Regions from separate parts of the Homo sapiens genome. Here all the other regions are linked to region 1. Evidence: fine-mapped expression QTL. A gene starts in region 1. Each other region holds a variant in brackets. All regions are shown on one strand. Distances are between the middles of the regions.

Region 1 (8,466 bases):
AGAGGAGAAGGAGCCATTTGCACATCACTGATAAAAACTGCCCTTATATTTGGCTCACTCCTGCCCGAAGCCCTCATTTGGTGGTGGCAAGTGATGGCCAAAACAGAGAGTTGCTGAGATGAATCTGTGCCTTACTCAACACGAGTGGCACAAAGAACTGCAGACCAAGGGCAAGTAGGGACAGCTTGTCTCCTTTTTCACACACTGATGCACAGGCACATGCACATACACATTTTACAGAGCCCCCGGAGAAACTGACATCTAGATTTTAAATTCAGGTGTATCTCTAGAGTACCGGAAATTGAAGCAATTAACCCAGTTCCCCACATTCCACTCTTTGGCTCTTCCTAGTAGCTGGATAGAAATGGGAGAGGTAGGCTTTAAGGGGAGAAGATTTCTGCTAGCTCATTTTAAAAGGATCCGTGAGGGTCATACCAACAAGGACTCTTCTCTACTCTCAGTCATACCCACTCCCCACCCAGGCTGTCTTACTTTCCTCTTGGAGCACTCCAATGTTGATATAGAGCTAATTAGTGAAAGAGGGGACCTCTGCTATTGTCCCATAGACATGATTCTAGTTCCTAAGTCAGACAGAGAGAAACCCTTTTACTAAGATGTAACTGAAGTCAATGCACTCCCTTTTAGGAATTTCATCTTTCTTTTCATCCTTTGGACTTGGTAAAAGAGAGCTTTGTCCAGAAATATCCCTTGGAAGAGAGTGGTAGAAATGGGGGAAGGGTCCCTACAGGTCTAGAGGAAGCTGACTACAGGTGCTCTCCTGGGCTCATGTGTAGGGTCCCCAGCCACTGACTTTGTACCACAGGGCCATGAGTTGTGTGAGCAGAACTTCATAGGTCACTAAACCAGAAGGAGCTACTGGCCTGCTGCCCTCTTTTGCCAGACTTCTGAGCTTCTTGACACAGTACAGGTTCAGTCACAGTCTGGCATCTAGCAATATGATTTTTACAAAACTAACAAGACAGACGTTAACATGCCCTGCCTCAGCCCATAGAAGAATGCCAAGGAGAAGGCTACTTACAAGGAGTCTTCGTTTGCCTTCAAAGGACCCCAGCAGGTCGGCCACTGACTTCTTGGGACTCTGCGTGAAGTGTTTGTTGGTGGGTTTCTGATAGCCATCCTGTTCTGTTTTACCTCCTTTTTTCTTCTTGCTCTTCTCTTTCTCTTGCTTGCTCTTTTTCTCAGACTTCTTCATTTGCTTTTCACTCTTAAGTAACTTGTCTGCGTTCTCATTCTTCATCTTTTTTTTCTTCTCCTTCTCTGGTTTCTCAAGCTTTTCATGCTTTTTAGACTCCTTTGCTTTTTTAAGGGGAACATTCCCCACCTGCAGCTCGTCCTCCAGCTGAGAGGCAGTAGGCCGGCTGAGGTCATACTTCTCCTCATACTCATTACTAAGAATTTTGTCCTGGGCCTTCTTTTTGGGAGGTTTCTCCTTTGCTGGCTTGGGAGGACCTGGCACCACATTTGGGTCTCGGTGGCCATGTTCCCGCCTGTCCATGCGGTTGTCCCGGAAACGGCCTGGGCCAGCAGCCCTTGTGCTGGGTTCTGAGATGGTGGTGGGAGGGGCATTTGTGAAGCTCTCCAAGCTGGTGGCCTTGCTGGGCCTCCTGGTTGTCTGTGGCCTCTCCCTGTGCTGATCCTTCCGGGATGGAGGGTAAAGATTCTCTGAAACTGAGGGTCTCCTGGCAGTGATCACCTCAGTGGTTGTAGGGGGCCTGTGGGAGGGTGAGGGGGTCCAGGGCCTCTGCGTGGTGGGAAAGGCAGTGGTGGTCATAGGTCTTGCAGCAACTGTTACCGCCCGGGACGTGGACCGAGTCACTGTTGTGGCTGGGGCAGGAGGAAGGGTGGTGGCTCTGGGGGTTGAGGGAGGTTGGGGCAAAGCTGGTGCAGTGGCGGCCAGTTTTCTCAGGACCTTCACCCGACTCTCTCTGGTTGGTGGGACTTGTGCTCTCCTTGGGTCCTCTTTCTTCTTCTCGCTGCCCAGGCTTGGCCTTCCTGCTCCCCCTCCACCGTCATTCCCCTCCGCCACCACCTGGCCCTCTACACCAGAGGCCTTACATTTCTGGACAAAGCCCTTCTGCCTGATCTTCTCGATCCTACGGATGGGGCCTTGGTCGATGACCTCGTACATGGCTTCCAGCCTAACGGGATATGGATAGCGCTCCTCCACCTGCAGCGTCTTCTTCAGCAGCACCATGCCAAACTTGCCCTTCTCCAGCTTCAGGAAGCTCATCAGCTTAGGGATGAGGCTAGGGTCCAGGGGCTGCTCCAGGATCTGGCCCTCGCTGGTGATCCTTCTCACCTTGCCTCCTTCCTCACCTGCCTGGTGGAAGAGCACAATCTGTTGGATGTGCCTCTCCGCCAGCTCACAGTACACATCGTCCTTCAGCAGGCTCATCATGAGGCGGTAGTAGCCTTCCGAGGCATGAGGGGCTGAGATGACCCATACTCTGTTCTTCCCTGCAAAGCTGGCAAGGATGTTGGGAGAGCTGGACCCCGAAGGGAAACGCAACATTCTTGACCGAGCTGAGGACCCCTCATCTCTGATCATCTCACGCGGAGAGCCCCTGGCTGCTGGTCTTTGCTCAGGTCTCACGGCGGCCCCATTGATGTCCGAGCGGGCTGGCGGCTCTGTTGGGCGAGCTAGTCTCAACACGGGCACACTCCTCCTTCTCTGGAGAGGCTGAAGGTTTGGTTCCTCCAGAGTGGATCTCTCAATTCCGCGAGACCTCCCAGTGTGCCTCAGAAACCGAGCTGGCCTACTGCTGTCCGGAGAAACCAAAGGCACTTTCCGTCCTCCGTGGCTGCCTCTAATAGTGGCATGGGGGTGGGGTTCTGATCCACACACTAGCCACATGGCCAACAGCATAGTGAAACGGGGTCCCATTCTCCATGTCATTGTGTAATCCACTTTGCGATGCACGGAGGTCATAAAACAAAGGGGAGGGGGAAAAAAGAAAGAAAATTATTTATCTGGAAACAGAGCTGGTCATTTTCTTTTTCTGTATCTCAGCCAAGGGGAGGGGAAAAGGTTGGTTAGAGAGAAGGAGGGAGGTCAGGAGATGGAAAATGGGATGAGATCCTGTTACTTTCAATCCCCTATAATTTGTTAGTGTTTAACAGAGACAGTTACATTAAGCAGGAAATCCAATTCAGTTTCCCAGTCAGCATGCTTGTACTGTTTCAACTAATGCTCTGGATGCTCCAAAGAAAATGCAAACTAGCATATTAATTATGACAACATTCACATTTCATTCCTTCAAAATAAGCAATAAAGAAACAAATAAACAGATCAAAGACAGAAAAGATTACACACTTACATGGTGGCTCATAGAGATGGAATGCAGAGGGTTGCAAAAGAAATCAGAAGTTTGGTTCCCAGGACAGTTTCCTAGATGAACTACTTTTCCTCCCAGCCCTCTCTCTCTTTACCGAGGGTGAGCAATACAAAAGGGGTGTGCTGCAGCTCCAGCTTTCAGAGTACCGCCACAGATCCACAGCCTGTCCTGATCTGAGAGCTGAGCCGATGCCTTTTCTTTCTGGCTGTGTCTTTTTACCTTCTGGACAAGTAGGATGAGGTGAAAGGAGCTGTCCTTCTAAGTCTTTGTATCTCCATTTGTCTGCAGTTTCTCCTCGGTCTCGTGTGTCTGTGTGTGCCAGTCCCTTGTGCTGACACAGGACGTCCCTTAAAGTCCAGTCCTGGCGATTTCTGAATCTCACTCTTTCCCTCTTTAAAGTTCCAGGATCCTTCTTATCTCCCTTTCCCCCATAGTCTGGCTTAGTCTCTTTGTTTCCGGGCGTAAAAGCACTGGGATTAATATGTTTTCCAGGCTGAGGGAAAACACAGGAATGTGATGTCGAAAAGGGACTTTTTTTTTCTTTCACTGTGCTTCTCTCCTCCCTTTATTTCTCCCTACCTTTTTCCTCCTCTTTTTCTTCTTCTTTTTCTTCTTTCTCTTGCCTGGATTCAGTCCCAGAAATGTTAGGACTACCTCAGTTTTGCTCCAAACCAAACTCAAACAACAGCAGCCACTGGAAATCAAGGAAACTTCACTAAGAATTTAACAGATCAGCAAAACACCGCCTCCTTCCCATTTTAGCACGTTCAGAGTGGACTCAGTGAGGAGTGAGAAGGCTGTTCTTTGGGGTGGGGTAAAGTTTTTAAACTCCACACATCATCATAAATCACTTTAGAAGAGGATGACTGGTGCCTTAACCCCTTCCAAACCAAGTCATCGGGGTAACTTCTCTTCCAGTCTGTTCTTACACTGTACTTTGGAAGGAGAAAATTCTCAGATTTCTGCATCAGGCTACATTCTTTTCTTAGAGACAGATACTCATTTGGGTCAGGGTGCTTGGCTGTGCTGACACAGACAGTATATATGTATTTATAGTCCCATGTGTATATTCTTATATCTTTCTCCCTGCTTTGTGCTTTTAGTTTGAGGTTGGAAAAGCCCATGGAAAACATGACTAGGTTGTTTTTATTTTATGCTAATTGGGGATCATATTACTGTGTTCTTGGTCCTAGTTTCTCCTCGGCATGGAAGGAAGCTGGTAAAAGGTTAGAAATGCAGGCAATGGCTGCAAGTCGAGATTGCAGTTGACTGTTACATCAGGGAACAGGCATTATGATCTCTAGCTTCAAAGCTCTGGCTGCAGATGGTAGACTAAGGGCTCCCTTGGAGGTCCCGAGTGTGTGTGTTTGTGTGTGTGTGTGTAGTGCAATATTTTCCTCTGCAGAGACTTTAGATGTCTGAAGGGCTTTAGGCAATCCATAGAAGTAGACTTATCAGGTTCTGAAAGAGAGAGTGAGGCAGCTTTGGGATTCCACCTCCTGAGTCTGCCATAAGGATTCAATGGAGAAGGAAGGGGTCTCAGGTTACGTGGATATTTCTTCCGGCCATGCTGGGCGAGCTGACTCTCCATGTCACTATTAACTGCCACCAACAGTGACAAGCCAGGGTTCTCAGAAACCTCCTTGCCAGCTCAGTCATGCTAATAGCGTCCCTCACTGGATCAAACTTCATCCCTAGTTGTTATGCCTTGATCAGCCCCATCTTGCCCTGGTCACATTTGACTTTTTTCACATAAGCTACGAGCATGGAACTGAGAAAGTCCTGTATAGAGGTTAACTATAGAGTTGCCCGGCCACACCTTGAAGTCCCAGGGGTACCAAGAAGGATGGCCAGCCCTGCTGTGGCATTCTCTCAGACACTTGTAAGGATAATAACAAAAGTGGGCTTCAGGCAGAGACCCTCTGTCCACTGGAGTCATAGATTGCAGCCTTCGTGGTATTCACCTGTTGGGTTGATCAACCTAGCCTTGTGCTAAGTTGGAGGGTCCTAGATGTTACTTCCTTTCTCATAATTTTCTAAGGCGTCCTACACTATCCTTACTGAGCTTTCTCCCTTCTGGCTTTTCATTTCCTCTTCTCTTCTCTCTGCTTATAACAACTACCATTTATTGAGCATTTACATGTGAAGCTTTGGGCTTAGTATTTTTGTGAATTCTTTTATTTAACCCTCACAGTATCCTTAGAAAGTAAACAGAATGATCCTCATTTTATAGATGAGCAAACTGAGGCTTGGTGAGTTTAAATAAATTGCCTATTGTCCCACAAAAGGTAAGCAGTAGCTCTGAAATTTGAACCCAGGTTTAGAACAGCCTACAAAGCGTGATGCTATCCTGCCTCTCTCTTTAATTTTCTACTCATACCTTCAGTTTTTTCCCTTCCTTCAATTCCTTTTTGCATTTCCCACATTCGTAGAAGAGTTTCATTTATTTGTTCAACCAGAGTACTTACACTTTTAGAGTCCTACTGTCTGGGATAATTGTGTAACTGTACTTTTTGCTTTTCTCAATAGGTCCTTAAAGCCCTTTATTATTTTTCTTGAATAAGTCATGACTTACACAAACCTCTCCATGATGTGCACAACATTTGTCACCTGTGCGCTGGTAAAGCTGAAATACAGCCACTTTAGCAACCCCGAATTGACCATGAGGAGCCACCCCAACCCTGGGTTGTGCCTGTCTTCCTAGGACCTCAGGCTTTCTTCCCTCTGTGAGCTTCAGTCACCAGATGGCGCACTAAACACACACACCAGAGAGGACCTAACACTCCACCGCCGCCGTTAGTCCCCACCCCACACCCAACTCCTTCCCCCAGTCTCTTCTCACACACAGATACATACACACACACTGGCAAAGTGGGGCTTCTCATGCTTGTTTTCATCTCAATGCCTAAACGCTTACCTGGGGCTTCAGAAAATCCTCCTGAAGAAGTATTGGAGGCACGTACCTAATAAGAGCAATGATAAATTCTCATTCATTCATTTCCGGGGAGATCTATAATGATTAATGGCTTGTAATAATTCTCAATTTCAAGTCCGTTATTTAAGAGCTCCATATTTTGTAAGTCCTCCATTTAGATCTTTCTATTTTTCTGCAACTGAAGAAACAATTAACCAATTAGTGCTAGGGGTTGGGGGAGGGTGGTGGGGGTTGGTGATATCTGAAAGGAAGACATTGATGTTGAGTCAGAAAAAGGTGAAAGGAAGAAAATGTTAAAGTAGACTTTAGAAATGCTAATTTGGGAATTAATTGATAGGAAACTACCTGACATTTGTTTTGTAGTAATTTGTGGGGAGGAAAGGAAAGAATGTACAAACTAGAACTGCTTTAGAGAAACTAGGGTGGGGATAGTTATTTGATGAAAGCTGGAGTGAATGTAAGAAGGCATCCAAAAAGGAGTGTGCTAACTGGTCAGACCCACACTAATCCAAGACTTCAGCAACCTGGGACCAAGGCTCAGGGTAACACGCTGTGACAGGCACGCTAGAGAAACCAGGGTTTCTGTCACATGCCGTTGGTTCTCTTGCACAAAGTAACACTCAGAGATGTTACTGAACTGAATTCTATTGCTAAAATAAAAAAGCATTTGCTTAAGAAGAAACAAGAATAAAAAGAAAAGGAGGGGATAACAGCATGCTGTTCAGTGTGGTTTTGGAGGGAAACCACCTCTCCTGCTCTGTGATCATCAGTATCCCCAGCAAGAAAATTAGCTGAGCCATTTTATCACACCTTTGTGGCAGAAGCACAGACAATACTCACACTGAGGAGGCTATGTGTTTTTCCTTCCCATTTGCAGAACTCAATCAAATGTTCAGTCTTAGGCTGCATTTGTGTCCTTCAGAATGAAAAAAGAATTCTTCTCTTTCTCAGTATTTTCAGTGTAGGACAGACTAAATAAATAAGTTGCCAGGTCAGAGAGAAAGCCAAAGATGACTATTAATGCAGGGTGCTGCTGCAGCCCAGGTGATACCAGTGAGCTGGGGGTTTCCCAGGTGCCAGTGGGACCTTGACCCCAGCCAGTGTCCAGGCTCTTGACACTGTCAAAAGAATGAATTCAAGGATATTCTAATCTGCCACGTCAAGAGTCTCCTCAATTGTGTTGACCATGCCTTTTATGGGAGCTGCCAGGGACCTCAAGCCCCTTCAGTCTCAGTTATGGCCATTACGGCACTGGGTGGCCTCCTCTCCCTTCAGAGCTGAGAGCAATTCCTTTTCCAATGGCCCTCCTGCTTGCAGTGAGGACAGGGTCTGGGTGGGCTCCCTTGGCTGGGACAGTCCTTTCTCCAGTGTCCTGACTTCTCACACTTGGAGCAGCAACCGTTGCCTGCAGGTTTGCTGTTGAGCCTGTTTGGTCTGCGGTGAAGCGTCTTCCTGGGTGACCCTGAGGTTGCAGGGCACTGTTTACAGTGACTGCTAATCATTTGGGCTGGCTGTCTATCCCATTTTTTGCCATTCTGGGTCATTTCAGCCATTTTAGCTCTGTCCCTATTATTGAATACCCCAAAAGCCACACCAAACATTTCATTAATAGGTGTGTAGAGTTCCAAAGCCAATTTCTGTAATGTTCTTCTTATGTCAGGTGCTGACTGGCTAATAAAGTGTGTCTGTAGAAAAATTTGGCCAGCGTCAGTACTGAGATCAATGTTAGTATATGTTCTTAGGTCCTCCACAAAGGTGCCCCTGAAACAAAGCTGAGTTTTCATCCTTTTCTTATTTATCTTATTTTATTACAGTTCGCGGGCTTAGTGGTATATTGTTTCATTCCCTCCACCAAACAAGTCACCATATGATTTTTCTTAGATCAACCTGGTCCTGTTGATAGTTCCAGTAAGGGTCATTGCTAGTCACGGATGTGGCCCCCACAGTGTATCGTTCAGGATCCCCAGCAGACAAGCTGTAAGCATAAGCCTGGGTGCTTTTTCTTTACTCTTTTTTTTTGAGACAGAGCCTCGCTCTGTCCCCCAGGCTGGAGTGCAGTGGTATGATCTCGGCTCACTGCAACCTCTGCTCCCGGGTTCACACCATTCTCCTGCCTCAGCCTCCCGAGTAGCTGGGACTACAGGCGCCCGCCACCACACCCAGCTAATTTTTTTT
Region 2 (8,466 bases), 78 kb after region 1:
CCTGAACACACAGAGGCACTAAATAAGTAACTGTCATGGAGTAGTCTATTATGAAATGGGTCACAGGACAAATAGGTTTTAATGAATGTAATAACTAGCCAATTAGCTAGGCACTGTTCTAAGTGCTTTACAAATGCAGACTCAGGCCGGGTGCAGTGACTCATGCTTGTAATCCCAGCACTTTGGGAGGCCAAGGCAGTAGGATCACTTGAACCCAGGAGGTTGAAGCTGCAGTGAGCTATGATTGTACCACTACACTCCAGCCTGAGTGACGGAGCAAGGCCCTGTCTCTTAAACAAAAAAAATGTAGGCTCATTCAGTCCTCACAAAAACCTTTGAAGTAGGTGCTATTATTTCTATTTAATAGATGGGGAAATTAGGATAAAGAGAGATTAATTTGCCCAATATTTGGGCTTGTATTAGTTAAAAGTTTTTTTATTATTATTATTATTCTATAGCTTCATAAACAACTCTGAAATCTCAGTGACTTAACACAGTACAAGTTTTCTTCCTTGCCCAAGTCACAGGCCAATTAGACATTCAGTGAAGGCCATCATGTAGGGATTCGGAGTTAGTCTGAATCACCAAAGGTGGTAACTACCAACTTTTAGGTTCTCAGAATCCTCTTGTGGACCCTCTGCATCCAGGCTGGAGAAAGAATAAGGAAGAGCTTAAAGCAATCTTTCTCAACCTCAGTATTTGTATGGTTAATTTTATGTGTCAATTTGGCTGGGTTAAGGGATGCCCAAATAGCTGGTAAAATATTATTTCTGGGGATGTGTATGAGAGTATTTCTGGAAGGGATTGGAATTTGAATAAACAGACTGAGTAAGGAAGATCTGCCCTCAGCAATGAGGGTGGCAACATCCAACTCATTGAGGGCCTAAATAATACAATAGAGAAAGGACAAATTCTCTCTCTTCTTCAGCTGGAACATCCATCTTCTCCTGCCCTTAGGCATGAGAGCTCCTGGTTCTCCGGTCTTCCAACTCTGGGACTTTTACCAGTTGCCCCTCAGTTCTCTGGCTTTCTGCCTCTAAGTATCAGGGCTTCAGACCCAGACTGAATTATATCATCAGTTTTTCCGGGTCTCCAGCTGGCAAATGTAGGACTTCTAAGACTCCATCATTGTGTGAGCCAATTCTCACAATAAATATCCAGTTATATGTATGTGTGTATATCCTATTGGTTCTGTTACTCTGAAGAACTTTAATACAGTTTTATTGACATTTTGGACTGGATCATTTCTCATTGCTGTTCTATGCATTATAAGATGTTTAGCAGTATCCCTGGCCGCCAGTGACCATCTGCCAGTTGTGATGAGGGGTGGGAGGGTATATGTGTGTATACATGAGTGTGTGCCCCCTAGTTGAGAATAATGGCTTAAAGGATCACTCCAAGGTTTTAGAGGTTAAGCTAGAAAGTGGTCATATTTCTTTTACTAAAATTTTATTGCCTAGAACTCAAATGGCCACAGGTAGCTTCTTGAGGGTTGGAAAATGTAAGCCAGCAGTGTGTCCAGGAACAAGAGGAAGTCTGGGAAGATTAGATGAGCAACGCTGGATTTGCCTGAGATATATAGACCTCCAAAAACATACTAAAAGCTTCAGAGAAACTAGCAGAGATATGCAGGATATTCTAAACAGTATTGGGGACAAAACCATACACTTTTTTTTTTTTTTTTTTTTTTTAAGAGGAAGTCTCGCTCTGTCTCCCAGGCTGGAGTGCAGTGGCATGATCTCAGCTTACTACAACCTCCACCTTCCAGGTTCAAGCGATTCTCCTGTCTCAGCCTCCCGAGTAGCTAGGATTACAGGCACCTGCCATCACAACTTGTTCGTTTTTGTATTTTTAGTAGAGACGGGGTTTCACCATGTTGGCCAGGCTCGTCTTGAACTCCTGACCTCAGGTGATCTGCCTGCCTTGGCCTCCCCAAAGTGCTGGGATTACAGGTGTGAGCCACTGTGCCTGGCCAAAAACACAGGACTATCAAGATTTTTTTTTATGGCTGATATCATCACCCTATATAGTTTTGCCAGAATACAAAGTTAATGCAATAAATCACTAGATGCCATGTTTCCTGGGTAGATATATTTGTCAGATAACATGATATAGCAATCAACATTTCCCAGTCATCTGTGGGAAAACTGAACATGGGAATAAAGCTGGGATGATAGGAATGTTTTCATGAGGCTGTCCAGACCCAATCACGTTCCAGAAAGATGAACGTCTGCAATATGTATGGCCAGGAGTGCAAGAGAGCTAGAACTGCATTTTTGGGAGAGGAGAAGTGGAGAATCTTTGGATACATGTCACAAATAATGAAGAGTCAAAAACAAGGAGAGGTAGAAGCAAGAGTAAAGTTGCCATTCATTTACTATCAATAGTTTCAAATAAATATTTCGGCCTACTGTAAAGGCATGTTGTAAAGTTGATTAATAAGTGACATTTTCTAGAATCCCACTTGAAGCACTAGCATTTTTGTATTTCAAAGCAGGTTAGGTCATTTTTTTTCTGTACAGAAAAAAACATATGTCTTTTGTAAGGATCATCTAAATCGCAGTTGGCTTCCTGATGGTGTATTAAAAACCTTTAAATAGGTTGGGCACAGTGGCTCATGCCTGTATTCCTAGCACTTTGGGAGGCTGAAGTGGGCAGATCACCTGAGGCCAGGAGTTCAAGACCAGCCTGGCCAACAAGGTGAAACCTCGTCTCCCTAAAAATACAAAAATCAGCCGGGTGTGATGGCACGTGCCTGTAGTCCCAGCTACTAGGGAGACTGAGGCACAAGAATCGCTTGAACCCAGGAGATGGAGGTTGCAGCGAGCTGAGATCGAGCCACTGCACTCCAGCCTGGGTGTTGGAGTGACTCTGTCAAAAAACAAACAAACAAACAAACAAACCTTTAATTTTCCCTGCTTTACGGCAGCCAAATTAAAGTCAAAATGCTTCTTGAGTTTTTTTATTATATGGCTTGAGGAAAATTATTTCTCGGCTGCCTAGTTTGTACATTTTTCTCTTTACTACATAATCATATTGAAAAGAACTAGAAATGCTCAACTTTCTACCAACTGGCATCAAATCAAATTCTAGGAGCCAAGGCTAGCTTCTCCAACCACACTTAGCTTCATCCCACCCAACCCCTGCCCTAAGTAAAAGACAACAACACTACATCTTTGTGCCAATAAAATCAATCTAATTCAGCCTAGGTCATTGGATTAAAGAAAAAATAGTCTTCCAATAAATCAAAGTTATTGATAGCCTAAGTCTCACTAAAATTAATAATTTTATTTTTTGAAAAAAAACCACAAAAGCTAATATTAAATGAAGAAAAGGGAAAAAGGATGGGAAAAAGAAGAAAGGAGGAGAATAAGATACTCTGAGCTGTAGATAAGTCTTGGTAAGCTAATTTATTTCCAGTCTCATACAATACAAATGGTCCCCAACTTAAAATGATTTAACATTTTTCAGCTTTATGATAGGCTTATCAGGACATAACCTGATGCATTTCAACTTATGATATTTTCAACTTACAAATAAATGTATGGAGGTGTAAGCCCAACATAAAGAACATCTGTAGACCTCATCAGTTACGTTTTCCAGAGAGTGGAAGAAAAGGTCAGAGTCATGAAATGACATCAACTGATAACTAGAGACAATGACTTTTCCCTAGATGTTTCTAGTAAGAAACAAATTAATAAACACAACTAATAGATGCATGCACATGTACATTAATTCACCAAATAGTTATTGAGAAATGCTATATGCAAAACACTCTCCTAAATTGGCAGGTGAGGGATGGAAAAGGTGAGAAAAATGTAATATGTTTCCTCAACAAATTTGAAATGTAGTAGGGATGTCAGATAAGTAAACAAAATACAAGTACACAAAATACTTGTCAGATACAAGTAAACAAAATACAAAAAGAACAGAGACAGGAGGGGAGAGACATGGAGTGGAGAAGAGAAGGGGAGAGGAGGCAAGGAGGAGACTGAAGGATTGAAATTTCCTGACTGAA[C/T]GAAGAAATGTGGTACAGCTTTTAAAAACAAGGGATCTGAAGAAGTGTAGTGAGGCTGCCAACATGAAGAATGTCTCTCCTTTCTGGGCAAGATCAGACTTGGTTCTCTGGATTATGATGAAATGGAAATTTCAGGGCACTAAGAGAAACCATAAGGTTTTACATGCCCTTTATTATCCATCAAATGTAGTGCCAAGCCATCCTCAGCAATTACTCACATGGATGTCTGGCCTCTGCCTGAAAGTGGGATTCTTCATTTCTCCAAAGGTTCTGGGCCCCAGGTCTAGCATTGCTCCCTCAGTGACCTGAGGCTGACAGCAGGAGGGCCTGCCTTGCATAGCACAGTGTCATCCTATCACTACTCTTCTGTTAAATTTGGAATATTATGAGCAGGTTTTTCTTTCTTCTTTTAGAGATACAAAAAGAAAGCAAGCACTGAAGAAAACAGAGTTAATTGGAGAAATGGATTGATTTAGCCAAGTGCCTGTTCTCAGGTGTACAAATGCTTCTGATAAAAGGATCATCTTCCACTACTGTTAAGCCCTGCAGGCTTGGCCTGAGAGAGTCAAGAATAAAGCTGACTGTGCAAACTTGCAAACCTAGTGCATAACAGAGAAAATAAAGACATCATTTGCCGATTGTAAAACAAAGAAAAAAACAAAACCCCAAAAACTAAAAAGCAAGCAGGCACCTTCCAACCTAAAAAGGCCTTTTAGTAGTGAATTTGGCAATATTACATGTTCTCTTTCCTTGATGCAATATACAGCTCAACTCTTGGAGAGCTACAGTGTAATGGTTAAAAGAATAGATTTAGAATCAGATAGTTTGGGTATGAATTTTGGTTCTAGTACCTTTTGCTGTGTGACCTTGGACACATTTCTTAACTTTTCTTCAGTTTCTTTCCAAACCTACAAATGTGGGATAATGGTAGTATTACTTTATAGAGTCATTATAAAGTGATTAAAATAAATTCTTTAAAAAATTTATAATAGTACTAGAGTCACAATATGAGTTTAGTAAATGATAGTACTTTATAGAGTCATTGTAAAGTGATTAAAAGAAATTCTTTAAAGAATTTAAAATAGTACTAGAGTCACAATATGAGTTTAGTAAATGCTGATTATTAATAACATTACTTTAGAAAAACAGGGAATAATGATATAATATTAATTCCTTATGTTTTTCATAAGAAGGAAAAATCATGGGTATCAGGGCAGCTCAGGTCCCATGGTGTATGTAGAGGGGCTCTTCCTGAGTGTCTCCCATTACAGTAAAAAAAATTGAGTCAGTAATGGCCCATAAATGCAGAGATACAGCTCTGTTTTCTCTAGCAGTCTGGCTGCCTATTACTAGATTCTTCTTTGCCAACGAAAATATCTTACACCTCACCATCAGAGAAAGACAGTGGCACTAGGCTTGGGAGCCACCATTTATCTGGTTACTCCTAAGATGTTATTTCTGATTTTCACTACCCAACATAGTAACAAATTATTCCAGGTTTGTGTCTCATCAAAAGTTTTTAAGTATTACGTTTACATCTTCCTTCCAGTTATTGATAACACATCATACAGGATTTTGTCGGGAACAAAGACATACACATGGGTTTCTCTACAAGTGTAATTCAGTACATTTTGTTCTATAGAGATCCTACTGCTTCTTTCTTTCTACTAAAACATCCTCTCTCCCTCTCTCTCTCGCTCACTCTTGCTCTCTCTCTCTCACCCCTCCCCTTGCTATCTTTCTCTCTTCCTCCCTTCATACTGTTTAGTTCATGATATACTATCATATTAGTCTGTCCAAGTTCTTTTTATCACCATACCCCAACCTGTCCAAACCATTCTCCTATGTCTAATGAATTCATGTGTTAATAAATGTACTTTCAAAATGTGCATGATTTTTCCATGTGAATGTATTTTAGAACATATAATTGATATTCTATTACGTGTATATCATCCTATTTCTTACATTTTTACTCAGTACCATCTTTTTTAGCTCCATACATGGGGCTATGTCTACTTCTAGTCTGCTGGTTCTAACTGCTGCATGATGCTTTCTGGCATTCACCTACCACATGTGGTTATCCACTTTTCCCCCGAAGGACACCCTGATTGCTTTCAATTCCCTATCACCACCAAAATGGCTGCAATAAATTATGAACCTGCCTAAGTTCATAATGATGAACCTGAGATATATGCCCAAAGGCCAAATTGCTGGGTTGCTGACATACATATAGTAAATCTGACCAAGAGCTGCCACTTTGCTCTTTGATGTGGCTGCACCAGCTGGAGTACTCTTAATTATCACCCTTCATACAGCATTTCACAATTATAAGCCCCATCTCTTTATGTCTTCACAGTGATGTCCTGAAATCACATTGACCACCTGTGTTAAATGTCAAGTTCTATTAGCTTCTAGCCATTCTCTATGCATTGGAATATATAGTAAGACAAGGTCATAAATTTACTTGTTGATTCTCTTCCTTGATATTTTCTTGTTAGAATAACTGAGCACTTTCTTGGCAATGGTTCTTCCAATGTGGTATCAGTTAATCACCAGATTTATTTTAGAGCTTTGTCTATGGTTTCTTTTCCCCTCATCCTCTTTCATATTTCAGGTTAAATCCCTTTTGAACAGGTTAGAAGTTCTATCAAACACAGTTTTCCTTTTCTCATGGGGTGCACATCATCCTTGCCAAGGCTCAGATGTTCTGGCATGAAAAATCATGGCCTACAACACTTTAAAATAATTTCTGTGGCCAATGGTTCACTTCCCTGGTGCCTTTTCCTCTTCCAAGGCTCCACATGCTTCGATTTGTAGCCTGGACTTCAAAGTCACCAACAATACATTCCAGATTCCTTTGGCTGCGGTATTATTAATTCCCAAAGAGATCAGCAAAACAGCCAGCAGTTAGTGGGTTTGAGGAGAGACTCAATTGCTGCTACTTTTTCAGAAGATGCAATTACTCCTTCCTCTGAGTTACTTTCTGTACACATTAACTTCTAGACAACGGTTTCGATTCCATTGTTCTTTTGGGATATTGTTCCTCCTGACTTCTCTCCTGGATTATTTTCTTCATCTTGATAAAACTGGTATGATATTTTCCCATTACAACTGTCCACCTAACTCAGGAGCACAAAAACAGTTTGTTCCATAACAGCATAAACCTTGTGATTTCAAATTTCTATTTGTGATGATGGCAGAAAATTAATCTAGTCACTTTCAGATACTTACTCTCATCCAGTCAAATTCAAAAGTATTATACTAACCACTCAATTCACATAAATATTTCTTTCTTTTCTTCTCCAAGCCAGTTTGGGATCAATAGCCCTGGAGAGAATAAAGGGGAATGCCCATACTTTCTAATATTTGTCCTGCACTATCTCTGCATTACTAAAGAGCTCATTAAGTCTGGTCTCAGGCTCAGCAGCTGACATTGACTAGTAGCTGAAAACTGGCTAAAATGTGACAACCATCTTCTCCCTAGGAAGATTTGTGACTTCAGTTGATTTCAGGAAACTATAGCCACTTCTACCTCTTCCCCCAGGCAGAAGTCAACGAGCATCCTTTGTGTCTGTCTGTTGCCTTGATAACCAAGTGGCCTCTTAGAGTTGGCAAATAAATGTACACTACCAACTGACATCCGGAGTTCTATAGAGCCACAATAAAATTACAAAGTCCCACAAATTGCGAACCAGGGAAGAAAATTGGGTGCAGCATGCAGGGAAATCTTTGCTTTCTTTGAGCCTTGCTGCCCTGTTTCCATATAGCCCTGTGGTGCTGGCTGCAATTCTAAAGCCGTGCTCAGTAAAATTCATCCAAGGTATAGAATGACTTTATGCCCTGCTCTTTGACTTCCCAAACTTTGCAGGGAGACCTATCCAGCAACCCCTCTCCTCATACACAAACATACAGACACATGTTCCTATGCATGCAGAAATGCATACACACATGCACAAATGCATACATGCATGCAACACATCACCACCAACACCAACACCCCTCTCTGTTTTTCATTTTCAAGCACTCTTTCTTCAGCTGTCTCCTGAAGCTTGTCATTGTTACCTCCTGGGGCAAGGAATAGGAGTAGATAACTTTCCTCAACAACAACCTTTTAATTCGGTAATTTGGATTCTGGGTCATTATTTTCAAGGTGGCTTGTATCCACAACAACCATTTTCAATTAAACTTCCCAGTGGGAAAGGGAGCAGTAGGGGTACATTCCATTACTATGGTTGACTCTTGAACAACAAGGGGACTAGGAGCATTGACTCCCATGCAGTGGAAAATCCATGTATAACTTTTGACTACCTCAAAACTTAACTACTAATAGCCTACTGTTGACCAGAAGCCTTAGCCATAACATAAAGTTGATAACACATACTTTGCATGTTACATGTATTATATACTGTACTTTTACAATAAAGCAAACTAGAGAAAAGAAAATATTA
Region 3 (8,466 bases), 140 kb after region 1:
ATAGTGAAAAAAGATTTATATTGGCATAGCAATAGATCACCAATTTAAAATATTGTTTATTTTTCATTACTTTTTATTCCATGTAATTTTTTCGGTACAGCAATAAGCTGACATCTAGCAACAGATATTTGTTGATGAGTGAGAAGTCAGTGAAGGACAGGGCTCCTCACTTAGTTCTCAGATCTCACTAAGGCTTGAGACCACTCTCACTTTCCCACATGGCCATTGATACCATAAGGTAAATATTGATTAAAATTAAAGAAATGGGCCAGGCGCAGTGGCTCACACCTGTAATCCTAGCACTTTGGGAGGTGAGGGTGGGCGGATCACGAGGTCAGGAGTTCAAGACCAGTCTGGCCAACATGGTGAAGCCCTGCGTCTACTAAAAATACAAAAAAATTAGCTGGGCGTGGTGGTGGTAGTCCCAGCTACTCAGGAGGCTGAGGCAGGATGATTGTTTGAACTGGGGAGGCAGAGGTTGCAGTGAGCCGAGATGGCACCATTGCACTCCAGCCTGGGCAAAAAGAGCAAAACTCTGTCTCAAAAAAAAAAAAATTAAAGAAATGTTGAAATCTGATACAAACATCTCAGCTGGAGGGTGGTTAAGCTACGGTTGAAGCATTAGTCTGATGTGTGGCAGGATGGGAATCCGAGGGGCCTGAAGCCTGGGCCAACAGCTGGCTCAAGAGAGAGAGAGATCAAGGTCCTGTGAAGACCAGGGTTAGAAAGTGGGTCAGCCTAAGAAACAATGATGCTTACAATGAACCCCTTAGAGAAGGCAGGGACTGATGTTGCAAAGGCAAGGATGATTTAAACAAGGAGCATCTGATGGAAGAGTGGAAGAGACAGGTTGAAAGGTGACAGTGGTGCTGGGTTTAGGGACAGGGATCTGGTGTGCAGGCAGTGGGGGGTGCTGAGATGAGTAAAATAACAAGGAATAAAAGAAGTAAAGGCTTGAGATCTGGGTCTAGAAGGAACTCTGTTACAGTTTCCCCTTACCCATGTTTTCTCCCTTTACAGCATATTCCATCCCCATCTCCTCCTCCCACTCCTGCGTACAGGCAGCAGGGCTCAAGCTAGACCCTATGGCATCCAGAGGAGGGCATCTGCTGGGGGTTTGTCTCTCCAATTTGGTGTCAAATTGGTATTAATGAGTGTCCTTTTCTCTACCTTCTGGAACCATGCCCTGCTGGATTCAAGCCTCTGTGGCCCTCCAAGTGAGGCCCCTAAACCCATCCAAAGGTTTTCCCTGCCCCAGAATAGACAGGCCCAAGAAGAGAAGTTTACCCAATCTTGCCCACCTATCTAAGTCCTGGACCCAATCACTCTGGCCTCTAATCTGTCTCTGACTTTGACCCCCAGCTCTAAAAACTGCGCCAGATTCTTCACTCAAAAACATTTATGGACCGTCTACTATGAAACAGGCATGCTCATCCTTCCTGGAGATACAGTTGTGAACAAGACTCTGTCCCTATGGTCATGGAGACTATTGCCTAGTGAGAGACAGAATTCAGTAAAAAGGCAATTTCAGGAAGATGTGATAAATACTGGGATGGGGAAGTGGGAACACTTAGGAGGGCAGGGGGAGGCAGAGTGGGGCAGAAAAGACTTCCTAGAGGAAGTGAGAGCTAAATCCAGATGCAAAGGACCAGTAGAAGTGAACCAAGCAAAGAAGAGGTCTGTGGGTGTGGGCAGGGCAGTGATTTTGGAGGAAGGAATGGCAAGTTCAATAGCTCAAAGGCTAAAGTGTAGGACAGGTTCAAGGATCTGAAGATAATATGGCTGAACCCAGAGGATCATGGAGATGGGGCTGGAAATGTGATGGCTTCCTAGATCGCTGTGTGAAAAAGTGTGTCCACTGAGCATCCAGGCTTGGAAAGAAAAAAAGAGTCATATCTGCCCTGGATTGTACTATAAATTTCTTGAAAATAAAAACTGTGCTTATTCATCTCTGCATCCCCAGTGCCTTGCAAAGTAGGCACAGTAATCTGTCAATAAACTTTCTTTCAAGGGTTCAATTATTGCATGGGCTGGCTAATAGCTTTTCTCTGCCTACAATTCCATATGATGAATCACTGCAATGCCAGTGTTACGGTTGCATAGTAAGTATTAGAGCAAACGCTGGTCTCAGTCAGGTGGTAGTGGTATGTTAAGAATACACAGACTAAAACAAAGATATTCTACATTCTATACACTCAATACATTCCAAGAGGGATTAAAGATATATCAGGATCCCCCCGCCACCACATAGTACTACACGTGGACACGTTTGATTTATATGTCTCTTTTCTTCTTCAGAAGTTCTTTTTCTACCCCAATTTGAAATGTTTTATAAAAATTTTTTGAGGTTATTGCAGTTTTGTAGCAGTAATATGGTAATGACTCACCTATATTTCACAATAAATTACTGTAAAAAGCAACACCCACAAGCTTGCCAATGAATTCCTCAGTTATCCTCTCTATGACCTATGAAAATAGCAATGTTTTCTTTAATCATCAGCATAGAGATTACTGAAGACTTTGTCTACAATTTTAAAAAACATAATTCAGCACTAAAATAATATAACAGAATTGGATTATCTTAGATTTTAATCTCTAAACACAAATTCCAGATTATGTCAAAACATATAAGTATTCCTGAGTTACTATTAGGGTCATAGAAGAAAACATATTTCTAATAGGTTCTAGGAAAGTGATGAAAATGAGGTAGTATTCCATAAATAGAGGAAAATGTAAATTGGGGTAACAGTAAGGCTTTGGATTTAAGTGACAATTGCTCCTGACCTTCTCAAAGAATGATTACCCACAAGCTCAGGCTACCCTGCTTAAAATTCTGCAAGTCAAGCTGGTTTATTCAGGATACAGCAGGTAGGATGTATCTGAGGAATCTCACTCTGAACTTATTGTGGCTACTGGTTAGGATAGGAATAGGGTGAAAGATGAGGCCTGGCTCATTTGGAGTTAATGGTGAAATATAAGAGGAAAGGGATGGAGTTAATGGTGAAATATAAGAGGAAAAGGATGGAAATATATTAAAAGCTGGTGAAATATAAGAGGAAAGGGATGGATATTCAAGCAAAAGGTCAGCAACACTTTGGTCTTTGCAACCAAGCAATTATCTTTATATAGCACCCCCTTCTTGGGAAAAAGAAACTGTGTTCAAAAGATCAAAATTTTAAATCAGAAGAATTACATGGTTAAGCATGAAATTAGTGTGAAGTCAATGATTAGAAATTCTTCAAGTATATTTTTATTTTACAGTAGCATATCTATTTTAAAAGCTATTTAATTCAGAAATGTTTAGATAAGGGATATGTTGATGGAAACTAATCAAACTTTAAAATTGCTGGTGCAAGCAGATTTATTTTCTTAAATCTTGAATGATTTTGCTGTTAACATGTTCTTTTCAGCAGTCCGGAACAAAATAAGTATATAAATTCTAACTTCAAATAACATAATTATTACTCTTTGAAAGCTAGAAAAACTGAATCAAGAAAACTTTCATGGCTTTTCCCTAGAGCCAGGAAAAGTGGAAGGTTCCCTAACTATGAGAAAGGCCAGCCTGACCTTTTCTGTGAGAAATAGAACCATGCAGATAGTAGTCAGATGAGGCTTCAGCTTCCAAGAGCCCTACCCTGAGTGTCCTATTTTAAATTGAGAACACTCCACCCTGAAACTTCCCATCCCAACCACTTTACTCTGTTTTTTTCCATAGCACTTACTTC[C/T]TTCTAATATGCTATTTACTTTTTATTGTCTGTCTCGGTTCACCAGAATGTAAGCTCTACAGAGGTTAAGGATTTTTTTTGCCAGTTTTGTTCGCTGATGTATCTCACCTTCCTAGAACAATGCCTGGTACATAGTAGATACTGAATTTGTCCTTATGTAATCAAAACTGGGAGACAATAGACTAAAGAAGGAAGTTCAGAGTATTAAGGACAAGTGCTAGTGATTCAAACTAAGTTATGAACAAATAGTGAAATATCTAACAGGGAGGGGCCAACAGTTAAAATTCAGTGAGGACCAGGATACCAAGCTGCTCAGAAGCTTTAAAGTCCAAAGTAAGTCAGCAAAGATTGAAAGTCCAGAAGACATTTAATTCTTTGGCAGACACTTTAGCTACCTACTCACTCTCCACTTCCCACTTTTACTCACCATCTGAAACCTTTATTTTGGTTATAATAACATTGTGCACCACTTCAGATGGGGATAAATGGACTAAGCCAATTATGACCATTCTTTTCCCCGTTTCTCAGCTGCTCAGTCCAGGCCAGTGAGAACTAAATAGAAGTCAACTGGGCACATTCTGGAAAATAGAAATTAGTTTTGCTGGTAAATGGAGACATAAATGATTGGCATAGCCTTTCCCTCTTCTTCCTACCTTGCGCATGGACATTAGAGCTGGAGCTGTCCCAGCCACCTCAGGTGCTCAGGGAAAGACCAAGAGAATTCTCTTTATTTAATTCACTGTACAGGTTATTTACCTGCTTGTTCCAAAATTTATTTTGGACCCTTACCTATAAATAAAATTTCCAAACTCCCTTGCCAACTGCCTCCAGCTAGATATGGTCATTGGCAGCACTAGGAGGAAATTGAGGAATAAGAGGAATGGAGAAGCCAGGGGATTTATCTTCCCTTCCTCTGCTTCCAGCAGTATCTCCAGTGTTGACATGGTCTTCTCCATAATCCCAGCCAATGCCAATGGGCCCTTTTCCATGGTCCCAGCTCCCACCAAGCAGCCATCTTACACATGTTACACATCCAGCTCCAGGTGACTCTGACTTCCAAGCTCTGGTACACACTATCTCCTTTCTTTGTCCCTTCAGTCCTGTGGGTGGTAGTGGCTTCCTGCTGTTACTAATCTTTAAGCTGCTAATCTTTAAGAAGCCCTATTTGGCTTCTCAGCTCTTCCAGTCTTTTTGTACCTCGTGCCCTGTATTAAATTATTTCTATTGGACACCTGGCACGAACTGAGCTTTCCTCTCTGGATCCTGATTTATACTACATCGTATTTGGCTTTTTCATTGCTTGACACAAACCACTCTTCAAATGGACTCAAACCTTAAGAAATAATTACAAATTCCTTATCTTGTGGACTGGTAGATTTTGTAAAGTCTATCCCCTTTTACAGGGTACTCATGGCCTCAGTGGGTAAGGAGAGAGTAAAGACAGCAAGTTGGTGTGGTTATATACGTGTGGATACATATACACACACATACATTTACATATATATACATATATAATCACATGGTTATATATGTCTTTACTATCTCCTTACCCACTGTGGTCATGAGCACCCTCTAAAAGCCATGGCTGCTCCCTGCCTGGGAGATTCCAAAATTTGACTCTTCCATGTTATACTTAGAACATATTTTCTTATTTTATCTCTGACTCGCTCCATCCCAATGGCTCTATACCCTGACTCACCCTTTCTGCCAAGCTCCTTAAGATAGATAACATATTTAGATAGCCTATCATCTCACCCCAAGATTTCCCCTCCTCAACTTCTCCCTTGGATATACTCACCTTCAGCCATAAAGCAAATGATGTACTATTCTACAGTTCACCAGTAGTCTCTTGGAACCAAAAACAGCCTGGACCTAAAAGCATCTGGCCTTCTACCCCTGCAAAGAAAGATCCAAACAGTATGTATGTGTGTATGTGTGTGCACATGTATTGCAGGATGAATTTAAAATTTCCTTCTTCTCATGGGTGCAGGACAGGATAGACACTTTGGAGGATAAACAAATTTATTATTTCAACCAATATATATTTAGCTTTTGCTTTGTGCTTATATGCAAGGGATACAGCAATGAACAAAGCAGATAAATCTCTGCCCTCTGGCCTCCTAAAGCTGATTCTGACTCTCCAGAATGGCAAAGAGAGCCATTTACTGCCAGTAGGTCCTGTTATTAAGGTTATTAAGGTCATGTTTCCATAAGAGATAGGGTCAAAGTTTTGGTTTCAAAAGGAATACCCTTTCTCCTTATAAGATTAGATTGTGTTGTCCTCCCAAAAAATGACTGCTCATTCTAGCAACGTGTGGCTTGCTCCCTGGGAAAATCAGCAAGAAATAAACCAGAATGCTAAGTGATAAGTAGACCAAAATAAAGTGATGTCAACAGTTTTACCTTCTCTCATTGGCTGGAATTCAAACCCTCCTCATCTACAGTCAGCAATTTGGGGGCTTAGAACATGATACTGCAAAGTATGGTGCCTTGGCATGCTAAGTACTTTGAACTGAAGGAGATTGGAAGGACCTCAGAAGCAAGGTCTCTCTGACCTTCCCCCGCCCTCTGGTCTTCCACTTCCCTTTCTTCCCTGAAGGGAGTCAGAGAAACCAGAATTCCTCTTCCCCATGGCAGATCATAAAAACTAGAACTCCACTCGCCCAAAGCAAGCTATGAAAACTAGAAAGGTCACTCTCTCTCTTCATCCTGCAAGACCCTCACTCCAGAGGGTCCAGCCCCAGGGAAAGGAATGCTACAGAGAGAGGCCAGAAAGAATCTGAGCAGACAGCCCTTGCTGGGTTTATCCCCTCAGTCTATCAACATTAGATCATACCTTTTTGCCTAGGCACGTTTCTACACAGCTGTGCTTTCTTCATCAAACTTAAGTGTAAAAACGGACACTTTTCCCTGGGTCTTTTGGTCTTCATTTCTGAAAGTTCCCATGTGACATAAGAATTTGTATTATGCTTTTTGCTTGTTAAACTGTCTTTTGCTACAAGAATGTTGGTGGTGACCCTTATGATGGGTAAGGAAAGGCATCACACCTTTCTGCCCTGATGCAATACCTGAGTGGGAGTCTTCATCAGCATTCAGTCCAGGACTGAGGCACCTAAAATGTGAAGGATGTGTGAAGGGAAAATAAATCTAGGGAAACCAAATTCACTAAGCCAAAGTGAAAAGTCAAGCTAGAAATTGCTTAGGGCAAACTTGCCTCTCATTCTATTTCTAAAAAAGATAGCTACTAAGAAAAAAAAAAAACAAAAAACTATATACCTCCCTCACAATTTGTCCACAAGGAAATTCCTTGCGGACAAAGGACAGACAGAACTCAAAGTTATCTCTCTACTCACTGAGATAAATGCACATCTGATTGCTTCCTTTGGAAATACTAATCAGAAACTCAAAAGAATGTAATCATTTGTCTCTTATCTATCTATGACCTAGAAGCCCCCTCCCTGCTTTGAGTTGTCCCGCCTTGCTGAAATGAACCAATGTATATCTTACATATATTGATTGATATCTCCTGTCTCCCTACAAATGTATAAAACCAAGCTGTGCCCCGACCACCTTGGGTACATGCCGTCAGCACCTGCTGAGGCTGTGTCATAGGTGAGTCCTTAACCTTGGCAAAATAAACTGCCTGAATTGACTGAGATCTGTCTCTGATATTTGGGGTTTACAGATGCAAAACGGGACTGGGTGGTAGGGAGGAGGACAACAGAATCTGTTTCTTACCAGGAAAGAGTGGAATTGTCAGAGAAAATAATGAGAGAGAGAAGGAGTGGGAGGGAAAAAGAGAGGGAGAAAAAGAAAGAGACACAGAAAAGAGAGATGAGAGATCGTGTCTTCATGGGACTCCCTCCTTTTGAAGGCTTGAATATGTTACTCCCTCCACAGCTACACTTGAAAATGTCATGCACATCCATGTGAAGAGACCACCAAACAGGCTTTGTGCGAGCAATAAAACTTTTTAATCACATGGGTGCAGGCGGGCTGAGTCTGAAAAGAGAGTTAGCAAAGGGTGGTGGGATTATCATTAGTTCTTATAGGTTTGGGATAGGCAGTGGAGTTAGGAGCGATTTTTTGCCGGCAGGGGGTATATCTTCTTACAAAGTACATTCTCAAGGGTGGGGAGAATCTTACGAAGTACGTTCTTAAGGGTGGGGGGATAACATTACAAAGTACCTTCTTAAGGGTGGGGACGGTATATTGTCACAAAGTCAATTGATCAGTTAGGGTGGGGCAGAAACAAATCACAATGGTGGAATGTCATAAGTTAAGGCAGGACCTGGCTATTTTCACTTCTTTTGTGGATCTTCAGCTGCTTCAGGCCATGGATGTATATGTGAAGGTCACGGGGGATATGGCTTAGCTTGGGCTCCAAAGACCTGACAGGAGAGATGTTCTTTAAGGTTCTATTTAGCTTCAACATTCCAGGATCTAAGATCTAAAGCAGGATGGAAAAAATCTCAAGTTTATTAACTGGATTATATCTTATTTGGTAAGGCTCAACATTTCTTAAGGAATAACACTGTATTTTTATTAGTTTTCATAAAGAAATAAAAAGTACATTCTAATTTTCAAAAGTAGTTATGAATTTTAATGCCTTATATGTCTCAAGAAAGGTCTGAGTTCAGTCAACTTGTTTGAACTGGTTTCTATAATCAAGATAAAAATTCCTTCTAAAAGTAAAAAATAACTGCTATATTAAACTAAAGTGAGATCTTTGAAATATTCT

What was found.
Region 2: its variant is fine-mapped to the expression of CCDC80 in nasal epithelium (TOPMed, PIP above 0.99).
Region 3: its variant is fine-mapped to the expression of CCDC80 in nasal epithelium (TOPMed, PIP above 0.99).

The regions. Positions count from the first base shown.
Region 1 is chr3:112,636,989-112,645,454 of GRCh38, forward strand. It overlaps CCDC80 (coiled-coil domain containing 80), which reads right to left and starts at 4,155. Exons shown (of 8, transcript NM_199511.3): 1 at 3,339-4,155; 2 at 1,040-2,928. The coding sequence starts at 2,917.
Region 2 is chr3:112,714,573-112,723,038 of GRCh38, forward strand. No RefSeq gene overlaps it. Among named protein-coding and RNA genes, the nearest start is that of MIR9900, 18 kb to the right of the region's middle. The variant C/T (reference allele first, on the strand shown) is at 4,019.
Region 3 is chr3:112,776,385-112,784,850 of GRCh38, forward strand. No RefSeq gene overlaps it. Among named protein-coding and RNA genes, the nearest start is that of CD200R1L-AS1, 22 kb to the right of the region's middle. The variant C/T (reference allele first, on the strand shown) is at 3,726.